2 separate regions of the Homo sapiens genome follow, and region 2 is linked to region 1. Evidence: fine-mapped expression QTL. A gene starts in region 1. The other region holds a variant in brackets. All regions are shown on one strand. Distances are between the middles of the regions.

Region 1 (8,337 bases):
GGCAGTTTCTTAAACAGTTAAACATACATCTACCACATGATCCAACCATTCCACTCTTAGATATTTACCCAAGAGAAATGAAGGCATACATCCATACAAAGACTTGTACTCACAGCAGCTATATTTGTAATTCACAAAAACTGGAAATAAGCCAAATGGTCATCCATGGGTGAATAGAAAAATTGTGGTACATCCATACAATGGAATACTACTCAGCAATTTTAAAAAATAAATTCTCGACATAAGCAAAACATGGATGAATCTCAAAATAGTTATAGTGAATTAAAAAAATCCAGACCACAAAAAGTACATACTATATAATTCCATTTATATAAAACTCTAGAAAATGGAAATTAATCTACAGTGACAGAAAGTACTGTACGATAGAAGGGAGGATTTACAAAAGGGCATGAGCAAATTTGTGGGTAATATTTTGTGGCTCATTATCTTGATTATGGTGATGTTTGCATGAGTGTAAACTTGTATGAAAACATCCAATTGTATACTTTAAATATGTTCAGTTTATGTCAACTATCTCTTTTTTTTTTTTTTTTTTTTTTTTGAGACGGAGTCTCATTCTGTCACCCAGGCTGGAGTGCAGTGGTGCAATCCTGGCTCACTGCAACTTCCGCCTCCCGGGTTCAAGCAATTCTCCTGCCTCAGCCTCCCGAGTAGCCGGGATTACAGGTGCACGCCACCATGCCCAGCTAATTTTTGTATTTTTAGTAAAGACGGGGTTTCATCATGTTGGTCAGGCTGGTCTCGAACTCCTGACCTTGTGATCCGCCTGCCACAGCCTCCTAAAGTGTTGGGATTACAGGCATGAGCCACTGCCTCTGGCTTTTTTTTTTTTTTTTTTTTTGAGATGGAGTTTCGTTCTTGTTGCCCAGGCTGGAGTACAATGGCGCGATCTCGGCTCTCTGCAACCTCCACCTGACAGGTTCAAGCGATTCTCCTGCCTCAGCCTCTCAAGTAGCTGGGATTACAGGCATGCGCCACCACACCTGGCTAACTTTTTTTTTTTTTTTTTTTTTGAGACTCAGTCTTACTCTGTCGCCCAGGCTGGAGTGCAGTGGCGCGATCTTGGCTCACTGCAAGCTCCGCCTCCCACGTTCACGCCATTCTCCTGCCTCAGACTCCCGAGTAGCTGGGACTACAGGCGCCCGCCACCACGCCCGGTTAATTTTTGGTATTTTTAGTAGAGACAGGGTTTCACCGTGTTAGCCAGGACGGTCTCAATCTTCTGACCTCGTGATCTGCCCGCTGCAGCCTCACAAAGTGCTGGGATTATAGGAGTGAGCCACTGCGCCCGGCCTTAATTTTTGTATTTTTAGCAGAGACGGGGTTTCACCATGTTGGCCTGGCTGGTCTCAAACTCCTGACCTCAGGTGATCCACCCACCTCAGCCTCCCAAAGTGCTGGAATTACAGGTATGAGCCACGGTGCCCATCCTATGGCAACTACACCTCAATAAAGCTGTCTACAAAATTAAAGAATGGTGAGAAGACTATTAAGTTTCATACCATTGGCTTATTCGAAGCCTAGTTCTATCAAGATTGAACATTTGTTCCTTGCCTAAACCATACAAGCTTCAAACTCCTTCACTTCCATAGCCTATCAATCCTATTTCTAGACTGTAACCTGCCCTTCCTCTTCCAAATCTGACCAGACATTTTATATGTGCTGTCAACACGAATATCCCAGAGTAAGCCATGCAAGAGTGTGGATGACTTAACTAAATGCACTGCCGCTACTTGAAAAATTTAGAGTTAAAATTTAATGAAGTTTAAACTCAGTGTAACTGACCTCTAATTGCCCTAAGTCTAAGGTCTTTTAAGAAGCTGATAGGTGCCGAGTGCAGTGGCTCATGCTGGTAATCCCAGCACTTTGGGAGGCAGGCAGATCACTTGAGGTCAGGAGTTCAAGACCAGCCTGGCCAACAGGGTGAAACCCCGTCTCTACCAAAAATATAAAAATTAGCCAGATGTGGTGGCACGCGCCTGTAATCCCACCTACTCGGGAGGTTGAGGCAGGGAGAATCGCTTGAACCCTGGAGGCAGAGGTTGCAGTGAGCCAAGATCATGCCACTGCACTTCCAGCCTGGGCAACAGAGTGAGACTCCATCTCAAAAAAACAAAAGGAAGCTGTTAGGTGAGCTATTGGTACATTAATCATATAGACAATCTTAGCAGGGTTGAAGTCTATAGGTATTGATTGATTTGACTACACTGTAAATTGTAAATAGATGCAATTTTAAGTTACCTGAATAAACTTTTCTATTCATTAACAGTAGTCATCTCAATTTTAGAGATTTACGTTATGCTCGTGCCTCCATCTGCACGCACAACATGGGAAGACAACAGACACCAAAGATACTTTGGATTCTTGCTGCTAAGTAAGTATTCAAGCACTACGTGCACGTTGTTACAATTAATAAGGCAATCTGACCCCATCCCTGCCACCAGGAAACTGCAATACTATTAATATATTAAAAAGGAAGACAACTGAGATAAAGGGAATGTGGGAGGTTGGGGGGGGTGCTTAGGAGATATCAGAATACAACCTCTTAGAATTACAGAATCTCAACAACCATCCTTTATGCCTGATCTTCGGTTCAGTAGCTCTAGGATTCCAAGGGGCCCCTCCTAACTGCATTGCCTTCTCTCCCCAATTCCCTTTCTCTCAGAATGTTACACCTTCCCCCAGTTAATAGTGTAGGCTTAAAATGTATCTAGGTGTTCTTACCTACTGACAAACTGCTGGAGTTGTTCATGGGAAAGGAATCAAGGCAAAATATCTAATGCATTCAGGTCATTCGAGTTTTCTTTTTAATTTATTGCTTTTTTGAGATGGGGCATCAGTATGTTGCCCAGGCTGAAGTGCAATAGCAGTATCTCTGCGAGACTCTGTCTCAAAAAAAACCCATTAGAGTCTTCACCTTAGGATGGACTAGGGCTATGGCATACTGGTAAGCATTTAAAAATAAAGGGGTATGATGGCCCGGATTTGCATTATCTGAGTAATGGGAATACTCCAACCCAGTCCGATTTCAAGGTCCCAGTGAGGTTACTGAATTCGAAGCTCAGAAGGTATGCGCCTAGTATTCCCACCATACGAATACAAGCGAGGTAAGTAACCTCAAAAGCATCGATAACAGTAAAATAGTTACAATACCTGTTACGCCTTTAGTATCCATTACCTTCGTTTAATTTAACTGTCAGTTTACATAACAAAAGAGTCTTTTAAGGCGTAAGCGCGCTCCTGGGGAGGGTATGGGGCTGTTGGCAGGGAAAGCAGCTTTTCGATCGTATAAATGCTCTTTGTGCCCAGACTGCCCTCTATAAATCAGCACTATCAACCCTGTCCAGAGACTTGCCCATGACCTCCAAGAAAACACTTTATTCATACTACTCCTAGCGTGCGCTCCTACCCGCCCCAGGGACTTCAGTCTTCCGGGGGAGGGATAACTACTTGGGGACACGGAGCACTGCGTACGCCCTGGGTCATGTGGGAAGGATGACCGCAAAGCCTCCAGTCGGCGCGCGGGTTCCGGGGCTGAGGGGCTGAGGGGCCCAAGGCGATAACCGGGATCCGCTCCGGCCGCGCTCCTCTTGCCTTTGAGAAGCCCCGGAAGTGGCCCGGCTGTTGGCCGCAGCGGGAGGTCTTCGGAAAGAAAAGGCCGGAACCAGAAGATAGACTCAACAGCGATGCCCTACCCGGACCCCGCCGGCCTCACACCCCGGCCAGCCAGCCGCCAGTAGTGCGCACCGCCTCCTCCCCAAGCCCCGCCCTGCGTCCACCCCAGGGGTTAACTCGCACGCGCGCTCTTGTGGCGGAGGTAGAGTGCGCCGTCCAGGGCTAGAGCAAGCGCGGCCCCGCGGCCCGGAGCCATGCTGAGGAGCTGCGCCGCGCGCCTCCGCACGCTGGGGGCTCTGTGCCTGCCGCCAGTAGGCCGGCGCCTGCCGGGAAGCGAGCCGCGACCCGAGCTGGTGAGTCTGGGCACCCTCGGGCATGGGGCGGGAGCAGGACTCAGAAACACGCCTGCGGTAACAGAGCCTTCGATTGTTATCCATACCCCAACCAGCCAATCTCAGAATAAAAGCTCACCTGGGCACCACAGGGCAGCATAAGCAACAGGGGCCTAGGAATACAGTCCTGAGATTCAAACCGTTAGAAAAGGGATGGAAAGGTGACCCCGTTTTTTTGTTTTTTAAGAGACAGGGTCGGCAGGGCGCTACCTGAACTGCATAATTTAGTCTGTCTATTTATATTTTGACAACATCTGTATTTTACCAATAATATTTGAGGCTGTTTTTATTTTTCAAAGATTAAAGTGACGTGAACTAAAAGATACCACAGCTTTTATCTTCCCTTTAAAAAAATATTTGATCCAAACGCTTATCTTCCTTTAGGTCAATTAATTAGAGATCTTTTTATAGACATCACACACAACACATATATAACTACACAGACAGGCAGAAGAAAACCCAGTTGCCATAAGATCTTTCATCACAGGGAGAGGGATCTATCTGCTTTTAATTCCTGGGGTTCCATGAGGAAAACAGAGATCGCCCCTCTTATGCAGGCATTAAAAGTGGCAAGGCAAAATGGAGAAAAATAACTCAGTCGACCGCAAAGAAACACTTTTTCCAGCAAAATAAGGTCCAAGAAAAGGAAAACATAAAGGCCTTATAAATATAATTACAACTTAGATATCTACTTTTAATTAAGCTGAGCACTCCTTAAGAAAATTCTTTTAACACCCTTATTATCTAACTTTAGCTCCACCAAGCGGCCAATATTTCTGGCTTTCAAACTTTACTTAAAGGCTCAGAGAAAGGAAAATCCAAGGTGGTTGGTGGAGGGCAGGGGAATCGACAAATAGCGAAAGGGCATACAGATACCAAACCAGAAAGGACTCATTCCCTAAGCCAGGATGAATCTGGGCCATGCCGGGCTAAACGAAGCTATGCAATGGGGTTACAGGCCACGCCCCCAAGGACGTAAAACAAGATGGAGGCCTGCAGCGAAGTTTGCTGTGGAGCATACAGAAAGACATGCAAAACACACAGATTGGCTACAGCTTACGACTTACCTCACAAATCCTTTCGCACAAAACTTTACAGAAAATATAAACGGTAATCCTCATCATTCCCAAAAGAGCAAAACGTCTTCCAAAAGGAAAAGAAAAACCTCCTTTAAAAGTATACTGCTGATGGGTTGGAGAGGAGATAAGGATGCCTGGGGGAAGAACCTCTTATTCCTATGCAAATGGTTCCTCCACCAGAGAGAGGAGCTTAATTGCTGTGGGACAGAGCTAGACTCCCTGGAATGGGGAGGGGGAGACTGCAGGCACCTGGTAGGGAACGCCAGCCAGCCATGCCGGCGCCTTGGAGCCTGGGCAGTGGCTGTGGCTCATTTATGCCCTGTGTGGCTACTGGACACCACACACACATGCTGCAGACACCACCATGCACCCCAGCCAGTAAAGAAGTGGGGCCAGGGAGCTACCCCACCCAACTGTCTTGTGAGTGCACTGGTGACCATTGGGGTGGGTGTGGACCACCTCCAGTATCGTAAAAAGAAAAATAGGTGCCGTTGCTGTCCCCCCAAAAAGAAGAGGAATGCCATAAGACCAAAAGGCTCAGAAATGAAAGTGAGAGGTTTTGAGTCCCCATTTCACTCATCCTTCTGTTGCAGGAATGAAGGAGGACTGGAGAGGCCATGGGGTGAGACAGGAGAACTTTATTGAGTGCACTCAGACCCAGCGGACTAACATCCAAAAGCTGGGCCCAGAACAAAGACAGCACTTGACTTTAATACACACTTTTAAAAGGGGGTGGGCTAGCTTGAAACAAGCTTACAGTGGCGTGAAGCATAGTGGCGTGAAAGCAAGGATACAGAGGCAGCACAAAGGCAATTAATTCATCAAATTGTGACAGGTGCATAATTCAGGATTACATACTGTGTCGGAATTGATGGGTTCTTGGTCTCACTGACTTCAAGAAAGAAGCCACGGACCCTCGTGGTGAGTGTTATAGTTCTTAAAGGCGGCATGTCCGGCGTTTGTTCCTTCTGATGTTCGGATGTGTTCAGAGTTTCTTCCTTCTGGTGGGTTCATGGTCTTGCTGGCTCAAGAGTGAAATTGCGGACCTTCGTGGTGAGTGTTATAGCTCTTAAGGCAGCACGTCTGGAGTTGTTCGTTCCTCCCGGTGGGTTTGTGGTCTCGTTGGCTTCAGGAGTGAAGCTGCAGACCTTCGCGGTGAGTGTTACAGCTCATAAAGGCAGTGTGGACCCAAAGAGTGAGCAGCAGCAAGATTTATTGCAAAGAGCGAAAGAACAAAGCTTCCACAGTGTGGAAGGGGACCCGAGCGGGTTGCCACTGCTGGCTTGGGCAGCCTGCTTTTATTCTCTTATCTGGCCCCACCCACATCCTGCTGATTGGTAGAGCCAAGTGGTCTGTTTTGACAGGGCCCTGATTGGTGCATTTACAATCCCTGAGCTAGACACAAAGGTTCTCCACGTCCACACCAGATTAGCTAGATACAGAGTGTCAACACAAAGGTTCTCCCAGTCCCCACCAGAGTAGCTAGATACAGAGTGTCGATTGGTGCATTCACAACCCCTGAGCTAGACATAGGGTGCTGATTGGTGTGTTTATAAACCTTGAGCTAGATACAGAGTGCCGATTGGTGTATTTACAGTCCTTTAGCTAGACATAAAGGTTCTCCAAGTTCCCACTAGACTCAGGAGCCCAGCTGGCTTCACCCAGTGGATCTCGCACTGGGGCTGCAGGTGGAACTGCCTGCCAGTCCCACGCTGTGTGCCCACACTCCTCAGCCCTTGGGTGCTCGATGGGACTGGGCGCCGTGGAGCAGGGGGCAGCACTCATCAGGGAGGCTCGGGCCGTGCAGGAGCCCACGGAGGGCGTGGGAGGCTCAGGCATGGCAGGCTGCAGGTCCCGAGCCCTGCCCCGCCAGAAGGCAGGTAAGGCCCAGTGAGAAATCGAGCGCAGCGCCAGTGGGCCGGCACTGCTGGGGGACCCAGTACACCCTCTGCAGCCACTGGCCCGGGTGCTAAGCCCCTCATTGCGTGGGGCCGGCAGGGCCGGCTGGCTGCTCCGAGTGCAGGGCCCGCCAAGCCCACACCCACCTGGAACTCCAGCTGGTCCACAAGCACCCCGCGCAGCCCTGGTTCCTGCTCGCGCCTCTCCCTCCACACCTTCCTGCAAGCTGAGGGAGCCGGCTCTGGCCTTGGCCAGCCCAGAAAGGCGCTCCCACAGTGCAGCAGTGGGCTGAAGGGCTCCTGAAGTGCCGCCAAAGTGGGAGCCCAGGCAGAGGAGGCGCCGAGAGGGAGCGAGGGCTGTGAGGACTTCCAGCACACTGTCACCTCTCACTATGACCCTTGCTTATGCAGCCCAGGTGGCTGTTATCTAGGCTTGCTCAAAAGAGCCTTGCAAGTGCTTATCTCATAATCTTCACTATGGTGCCCAGACGGCCGCAGCCTAGGCCTACTCAGGCATGTCTTATAACCTTCACTGTGCTGTTTAGATAAAACAGAATACTTGAAGTTACTAGTTACAGAAAACAGGAATCTATAAACTCATAAAACTTGCAGAGCAAGGTACAATCACACGGAAGGGGATGGGATTCAAGGGGGAACTTTACTTTTTCTTATCCTTTTGTTGAGGGAGTGCTGGAAGAGTCTCCAGAGCACATCCTTTGAGCCCTGGTTTCTTTGAGAATGTTATCAAGACTACACCCGGGTCAGGGCTTTGCCTGTTACTGCCTTTGGGATGAGTCAGCCTCATATAGAAAGCTTGTTTTTCACTTTTTAAATTTTATTTTGCTTTCTTCAATTTCCTGCCTCACTTCCTCAGGCCCCATATTTGAGCGCCAAACACAGTTAGGGTGAGAGTGAGACTCTGTCTCAAAAAAAAAAAGGACTTTCTTCTCAATTCATCTAAGTTCTTGTCACACAATCAGGAAAGATCAGTCTTGTGGACACAGAAGGGTGAGAATAATGGAATTTATTGGGCAAAAAAGGAAAAAGAGAAAAACCTCAGCAGAGGAAGAGGGAGCTGCTCCTACCCTGCCACACAGGAACTCAAGAGGCCAGGCTCCTTGCGTCTGCCAATGGCATGAACTTCTGTGGCTCCACCCTGTTCTCCCAGTCAAAGGCTGGTGGGAGGTTCTCTGGGGAGCTCTTTTTACTTCGCTGTCTTACCACTTTATAAATGTGTAACCAAAGCTCAAGCAAGACCTTTCCTCTGTTCAGGACAACAAAATATAATCGTTGTCCCTAACATTTCTACTTCATTTATAATCTATGCTTTGT
Region 2 (8,337 bases), 30 kb after region 1:
TTGCAATGAGCCGAGATCATGCCACTGCACTCCAGCCTGGGCAACAGAGTGAGACTCCATCTCAAAAAAAAAAAAATGCACAATTAAATCCTTTATTTTCACTAACAATTTAGTTAGACATTTTATAATTCTGATATGGTTTGGCTTTGTGTCGCCACCCAAATCTCATCTAGAATTGTAATCCCCATGTGTCAAGGGAGGGACCTGGTGAGAGGTGACTGGATCATGGGGGCAGTTTCCCCCATGCTGTTCTAGTGATAGTGAGTTCTTATGAAATCTGATGGTTTAAAAGTGTTTGGCAGGCTGGGCACCGTGGCTCACGCCTGTAATCCCAGCATTTTGGGAGGCCAAGGTGAGTGGATCACCTGAGATCAGGAGTTCAAGGCCAGCCTGACCAACATGGTGAAACCCCATCTCTACTGAAAATGCAAAAAAAAATTAGCTGGGCATGGTGGTGTATGCCTATAATCCCAGCTACTCAGGAGGCTGAGGCAGGAGAATTGCTTGAACCTGAGAGTTGCAGTGAGCCGAGATTGCGCCAGTGCACTCCAGCCTGGGCAACAGAGCAAGACTCCATCTCGAAAATAAATAAATAAATAAATAAATAAATAAATAAATAAAAGCATTTGACAGATCCCCCCTTGCACTCTCTCTCTCTCTCTCTCCTGCCACCATGTAAGACGTGCCTTGCTTCCCCTTCCCCTTTCCCTTCACCTTTGCCGTGATTGTAAGTCTCTTGAAGCCTCCCCAGCCATGCAGAACTGTGAGTCAATTAAACCTCTTTTCTTTATAAATTACCCAGTCTCAGGTAGTTCTTTATAGTAGCATGAAAATAAACTAATGCAAACTCTCATGATTTTTATAATCTCACAGCCCAGTAAACCTTCAAATCATTTCTCCCTACAAGTTATTTTCCCCTTCCATTGAAATTTAATCAAGAGTTCATTTGTCAGATCCATATGCTCGGTGATGGTGGTGGTGGTTGTATTACTAAAAACACTAAATTAGTCACCAGCTCCATTGTTCTAGTGCGGTGTTGAGATATATCCCATAAATACATCAACATGCCCACCTCAACTAAGTCATTTGGCAGATAAAACAAGCTCAAATGCAAAATGGGAAGTAGAACTTTGAATCAGACTGTTGGGGATTTGAATCCCATGTGTGCCACCAAATAGCCATACAGCTTTAGCAAATTACCTAACCTCTCTGGGCCTCAGTTTCCTCATCCATTAACCAAAGACAATAATACTTTTCTTAAAGAGATATTTTGAGGATCACAGTTAATGTATTCAGAGCTAGCAGCTTAATATGTTAAATGAAGCTTTTTTTTTTTTTTTTTTGAGATGGAGTCTCTCTGTCACCCAGGCTGGAGTCAGTGGTGCAATCTTGGCTCATTCCAACCTCCGCCTCCTGCGTTCAAGCGATTCTCCTGCCTCAGCCTCCTGAGTCGCTGACATTACAGGCACATGCCACCATGCCCGGCTAATTTCTGTATTTTTAGTAAACATGGGTTTTTGCCATGTTGGTCATGCTGGTCTTGAACTCCTGGCCTCATGATCCATCCGCCTCGGCCTCCCAAAGTGCTGGGATTACAGGCGTGAGCCACCATGCCCGGCCTAAATGAAGCTTTTTAATTATTATTTTCAGATCTATGTTTAGCAGAGAGAGAGAGAAAAAAAAAATTACCCTGAATCCAGCACAGAGAAAAAAGGAAATGGGAAATATAGAGAGCATAAGCTATAGTGGACAAATAAAAAGATCTAACATGCTCTAATTAGAGTCCTAGAAAAATAGAATAAAGAGAATTGAAGAGATCCAGTATTTAAGGAAATAATGGGTCAGCATATTCAAGAGCTAAAGAAAATCATGAATTGACAATATAGAAAGCAATCTATATCAAGCTAGGTTTTAAAAGTATATCTAGAGACATTATAGAGAAATTGGAGAATACTTAAGACAAAGAGATCTTAAAAGCAGAGCTAAGATAGAGCAGCCATTACAAAGCAGTCTTGCTTTTTAGAAGCAAGAGGGCACCATTACACTGGCAGTAAACCTCTCAATAGCAACAGTAGAAGCCAGAAGACAATAAAACATCTGCCAAAAGAAAATGTCGATCTAAAATCATGCTCTCAGCAAAGCTAAAGTTCAAAAATGAGCGCAAAATGAAGGTGCTGTCATTCAAACAAATGGAGAGAATTTATGGAACAGCAGGACAACACCCAGGGAGCTCCTAAATGGTGGACTTTAGAAAGAAGGAAAGCAATCCCAACAGGTGGGAGGATGAAAGGAGGAATCATGAGCAAATTAATTGGTAAACATGTAGATAACTAAAATCTAAATAGAGTCTATAAGTAATATTGATGTCTAAATTCTGAGGATTGGTGTGTTGCAGTGGCTCATGCCTGTGGTCCTAGCTACTTGGGAGGTTGATGCAAGAAGATCGCTAGAGCCCAAGAGTTCAAGGTTGCAGTAAGCTATGATTGCGCCACTGCACTCCAGCCTGGGGGACAGACTGAGAACCCATCTCTAAAAATAATAAAAATAAAAATTTACAATAAATAAATTATAGTGATTAACAAAAGGACAGCTAAAATACTGGATAACAATAGCATGTAGTTTGGGAGGAGATGAACAGAGTTAATGTTGATACATCCTCATATTTTTCAGTGGAGAGAATGATTAAAATAAGAGAAAATGAGTGTATAACTAATATCTAAAACAATACAAGATCAAACAAGTAGTAAAACTCAATTTTTAAAAAGGCAAGGAAAAAAAGAGGGTTAGAAAAAGCGAGTCAAATAATAAGCCAAAATAAGATGATAGAAATAAGTCTAAATAAATCAGTAATGACTCTCTATAAATAGACCAAACCATCAGTTCAAAGACAGATTATAATATTGAATTTTTAAAAGTAAAAAACTAGAAACTATATGAGACATATTTTTGAAATGACACCAAAAAGTTTAAAAGGAAGAGAAAATATGCTACACAAAAGTTAACCAGAAGAAAACTGGGATCAGAAAAAATAATGAACTGTCAAAAAAGTAATATTGGGGATAGAGAAGGCTACTTCATAGTAATAAAAGATTCAGTTCAATAGTAGGTAATAATAACTAAATCAATATGCGTCTAATAAAGAGTATAAATTAAATTGATATAATCATAGGGAGAAGTTGACTAGCCCACCTTTATATAGTGGGAGATTCCAACACATTGTTCTCAATTTTTTTTTTTCAAGACAGAGTCTCGCTCTGTCACCCAGGCTGGAGTGCAGTGGCGCGAGCTCAGCTTATGGCAACCTCCGCCTGCTGGATTCAAGCAATTCTCCTGTCTCAGCCTCCCAAGTAGCTGGGACTACAGGCACCCACCACCATGCCTGGCTAATTTTTTTCTATTTTTAGTAGAGACAGGGTTTCACCATGCTGACCAGGCTGCTCTCGAATTCCTGACCTCGTGATCCGCCCACCTCGGACTCCCAAAGTGCTAGGATTACAGGTGTGACACAGCACCCAGCCTGTTCTCAATTATTGATAGGTCAAGCAGACAAAAAAAAAAAATCAGAGCCAAGTGAGGTGGTGCACATCTATAGTCCCAGCTATTTGGGAGGCTGAGGCAGGAGGATTGCTTTAGTCCAGGGGTTCAAGGCTGCAATGCACTATGATAACTCCTGTGAATAGCCACTGAACTGCAGCCTGAGCAACATACTGAGACCCTGTCTCCAAAAAAAAGAAAAAACAATTAGAAAATGGAGGATTTAGGCCAGGCACGGTGGCTCAAGCCTGTAATCTCAGCACCTTGGGAGGCCAAGGTGGGTGGATCATGAGGTCAGGAGATTGAGACCATCCTGGCTAACATGGTGAAACCCCATCTCTACTAAAAATACAAAA[AC/C]TTAGCTGGGCATGGTGGCATGTGCCTGTAATCCCAGCTACTTGGGAGGCCGAGGCAGGAGAATCGCTTGAACCCAGGAGGCGGAGGTTGCAGTGAACCAAGATCGCGCCACTGCACTCCAACCTGGGTGACAGAACAAGACTCCATCTCAAAAAAAAAAAAAAAGAAAAGAAAAGAAAGAAAGAAAATGGAGAATTTAAACATCACAAGATAACAAGTATGGTTTATTAGACAAACATAGAACTCTGCATCCAATAATTAGAAAACAGCACACTTTCTTTTTCCCAGCACACATTTGCAAAAATTGATCATGTATTGGCTTATAAATTAAGTCTTAATAGATTTTACAGAACCAGAACCTTACAAGCCAATGTTCTGGCCACATTGAATTTGAGGTTAAAAAAAAAAAAAGAACTTTTTAAAAAAAATCTATAGTAAATTAGAGTAACATTAGCTAGTGTAACTCCTACATTTCACTACTTTAAACCTATAGGCTTTTTTGGTTTACCTAATAGTCTCATGTGGTTATCCTGGTCAGTGAGGGTAACCCCATGAAGTGATTGAGAGACCCAGTCTCGTTTCAGAGTGAGACTCCTCCTTCCGCTTAGTGCCTCAGTGTCTTCTTTATTCAACTATTCAGGCTTTCTAATCATTTTCTTAGTTTTAATAAATTTTTGAAATTTTTTTCTATTTCATCTGCATTTTCAAATGTATTGACATAAAGTTATTCATAATATTCACAATATTCTCAATTTTTAAAAAATTTCAGCTAAATCTATATCCTTTTTGGCCCCAATAGTATTTATGTATGCTCTCTCTCATTGTCTTGATCTGTCTTGCCAGAAATTATTAGTCTTTTCAAAGAGTTATCTTTTGGCTTTGTTATGCCTTTCCAGTGTGTGTGTGTGTGTGTGTGTGTGTGTGTGTGTGTGTATAGACATATACAAATATAATAAAACAAATTTTTTTATTTTTAAATGCTGCTTTTATCTTTGTTATCACTTTTCTGCCTCTAATACAAATCTAATTAAGTGTTCTAGCTAAACGAAGGAAAACAAGCTAAAGCCAGTTTCCTGTGCCAACCAAACTGATCTGTGCCTAAATATTAGTTACATTTAGAAAATTACACTGTATAGTTGTTGCATTATTTTGTATTTTCTGAAACATTTTCTGTTAGTCTCTTTACTAATCTAGGACTTTCTGTTACAAGGGCAACTCTTAACTCTCACTAGCTTAAGCAAAAAAGGGAATATATTGGCTTGTATGGTTGAGAAGTCAGGTGTGGCTGAGTGCAGATATTCAGTGATGTCATTAGGAATCTCAGCCACATTTTCTTCTAGATCTGCTTCATCCTTACGTAGCCTTTCCCAGTGTAGTGGCACAATGGCCACCAGCCAGGCCAGCCAGGCTTATGTCTTGTAAGCCTAGCGCCTCAGAGAAAAAGAACCCAGCCCCAAGGGCTACAGCACAAGTTCCAGGATTGACTATTTCAGCCTGTGCCCACCCCCACAACTGGTCACTATGTGTGTGTGGAGTGGAGGGATCATTATTCAATGCCAGTCAACCTACATGGGCTAAGAATGAGGGAGAGGTGGTTCCCTGACAAAAGGGGTACATGAGTATATCAAAGAGAGAGATATGAAGAGAATGAAGGGAGGGTAGGGGATGGATAAATGAAGAGAGTCATGTTAGTAGAAAAGGGAGTTGCTGGGCAGGCGAGAACACCTAATGTCCCCTGGGTCTTAGTAAATGTTGAATTGACTCAACAAAAGAGCAAAGGAAAAGCTAATGGGAGTGGAAGTATTAAAAGTTCATTGAAAGGAAAACTGGGCAGAGAGATCATCACAGTGATAACTTCCTTTCTACCTGGGGTAGTTCCATCATCTGCTTGGTAGTACCATAGGAGCACGAAACACGTTTCCGTGCTCTACCTTCTGTTTCAACCAACTGAAATTTCACTTTTAAAGAGATATCCTTTCATTGTGATATGTTTCTCCAGGATTCCCAGAAACGTCTGTAGCCACTAGTCACATGTAGCTATTTAAAGTTAAGTATAAATTAATTCAAATTAAATAAATTTAAGGACTCAACTTCTCAGTTATGCTAGCCACATTTCAAGTGCTCATTAGGCACATGTGGCTACCAGGTTGGACAGCTCAGATATGGAACATTTGTATCATCACAGAAAGTTCTATTGGACAGTACTGACTTAGAGCAGTAAGCTGTTATCAGCAATTTGTTGTTATTAGGTGTCTTTCTAGTGACCATTACTCAGAATTGAATGAGAAATGTTGATTATGACAGAAGAAATGAGAGAAGCTGCCTGGGACCATCTGTTGGCCCTATTTTCACTTCTTTAAAGCATTTCAGCTCCCTTAGGACTTTGCAGTGGATCTCCAGATGGGATAGTCTCTGCCATCACAGAGCTGGAATTCCTGATGATCCCTTTGAAACAAGCCCAGAGAGACATCCAGGGACTGTAGCCCAGGAGCCACCTGAGAGCAGTGGTGCTTGGGAGAGGGGGAGCTTGAGAGGCTGTTGGTGTCAGAGTCCTTGAGGAATGTATTGTCTAAGGCAGTCAGTGCTCATTGTTGTCAGGTGTCATAAATTTCTATCCCTTGTCATGTACTTGATCATCTTTTAATGTTATATAAGTCAGATAAAAACTGATTTTTTTCCTTTTTCATTTTATTCTGCAGACCTATCCCTCTTTGTTCTGTTGTTATGATAAATAGCCAACTTGATAAAGTTGAAGGAAGGAAATTTTTTGTTTCCTGTAATGTTCAGAGTGTTGATGAGAAGACCCTATACTCAGAGGCGACAAGTAAGAAGCTGGTCTTATCTCTTTCTTGGGGTTTAGTTGGGTTGGGTTGGGAGTTTTGGTTGGTTGGTTGGTTGGTTGATTTGGGTTTTGTGGGGGTCAGGGGGGTGTTTTGGTTTGGTTTGGTTTTTTGCCCTGGTATTATAACCCATACATGCCAAAAAATTCTTAATTCCCTGTCATACAAAGAACAAGTTAAAGATATTCTTATACATTGCTAGTAAAGGGCAAGTTGCCAACAGCTATCAAAATTACAGCCCAATGCATAAGCTCATGCCTGTAGTCCCCGCACTTTGGTAGGCTAAGGTGGGAGGATCACTTGAGCCCAGGAGTTCGAGACCAGCCTTGGCAACATGGCAAGACCCCATCTCTACAAAAAATACAAAAAATTAGCGGGGCATGGTAGTGTGCGCCTGTAGTCCCAGCTACTTGGGAGGCTGAGATGGGAGGCTCCCTTGAACCCAGGAGACAGAGGTTGCAGTGAGCTGAGATCGCACCTCTGCACTCCAGCCTGGGTGACAGAGCCAGACCCTGTCTCAAAAAAAAAAAAAAAATTTACAAAGTGATATGCCCTTTGACCCACCTCCAGGACTTTATCTCACAGGTATAATAACTGCAAAATTATAATGTGTTAGATTGCTATCGGGTTCCAGTGATTGTGTCACTCATGCAACATTATTTGCAATAGCAAGAAAAATGGCAAAACGTAGCAAACATAGCTATCCATCAATAGGAGACTGGTTAAAGAACTACAGCTCACCTATGAACTATATTGTATGTGTGTGCCATTAAAAAATGGTGAAATATTGTGATACCATAAATAAGAAAAATATGTCTATATTTATGTGTGTGTAGACTGTCTCAGGAAAGTCACACACATGACCTGTTACTTCCCTGGAGTACTGAGGTTCATCCATGTTGTTGGCTGTGTTCACTTGTTTGTACCACTGTGTAATACTCCATATGTGACTGTCCCACAATGAATGTCTCTCTTCCAGTGACAGGCCTCTGACTATTACAAATGGGGCTGCTATAAACATTCTTGTTCATGTCTCCTGGTGGTGTGCATGGGCAAGAGCTTGGCATATACTTAGGAACAGAATTTCTGGGTGGTAGAGTATTGTGAGTATTCAGCTTTACAGAGGAATGCAAAATTGTTTTCTAAGCCTGTACCAAATTAAACTCCCACCAGCAATATATGAGATTCTTTAGATTCCCATCTTCTCTAGCAATTAGTGAAGTCAGACTTCATGATTTTTGCCAGTCAAATGACTATAAAATGACTTCTCGGTGTGATCTTGATTTGCATTTCTCTGATTACCTGTGTGGTTGAGTGTCTCTTCATATGTTTATTGACCATATTTTTTCCCATTCTGTGAAATTTTTGTTTGTTCAGCTTTTTTTCCATTTGTTCTCATTTTCTTACTGATTTATAGATGTTCTTTATATATTTTCTATTAGAACAATTTTTTGTTGGATATATAAGTTGCACATACCTCCTTACAGTGTGTAAGTTGTCTTTTATTTGCTTTAAGGTATCTTCTTTATGAACAGAAATTTTTAATGTCAATTTAGTTGCATTTATTACATTTTTCCCTTTATGGCTAATTTTTTTGTATCTTGTT

Evidence for each region. PIP is the estimated chance that this variant, and not a neighbour inherited with it, causes the effect. A credible set is the group of variants that fine-mapping cannot tell apart.
Region 2: its variant is the best candidate, but not a certain one, in a credible set for the expression of THEM4 in whole blood (INTERVAL, PIP 0.82).

What each region holds. Positions count from the first base shown.
Region 1 is chr1:151,905,012-151,913,348 of GRCh38, reverse strand. It overlaps THEM4 (thioesterase superfamily member 4), which reads left to right and starts at 3,838. Exons shown (of 6, transcript NM_053055.5): 1 at 3,838-3,989. The coding sequence starts at 3,891. RefSeq lists enhancers at 2,866-3,453, 3,442-3,561, 6,553-7,092 and a silencer at 3,802-4,111.
Region 2 is chr1:151,875,379-151,883,715 of GRCh38, reverse strand. THEM4 (thioesterase superfamily member 4) reads left to right here. Exons shown (of 6, transcript NM_053055.5): 5 at 6,591-6,715. Among named protein-coding and RNA genes, the nearest start is that of THEM5, 26 kb to the right of the region's middle. The variant AC/C (reference allele first, on the strand shown) is at 3,891.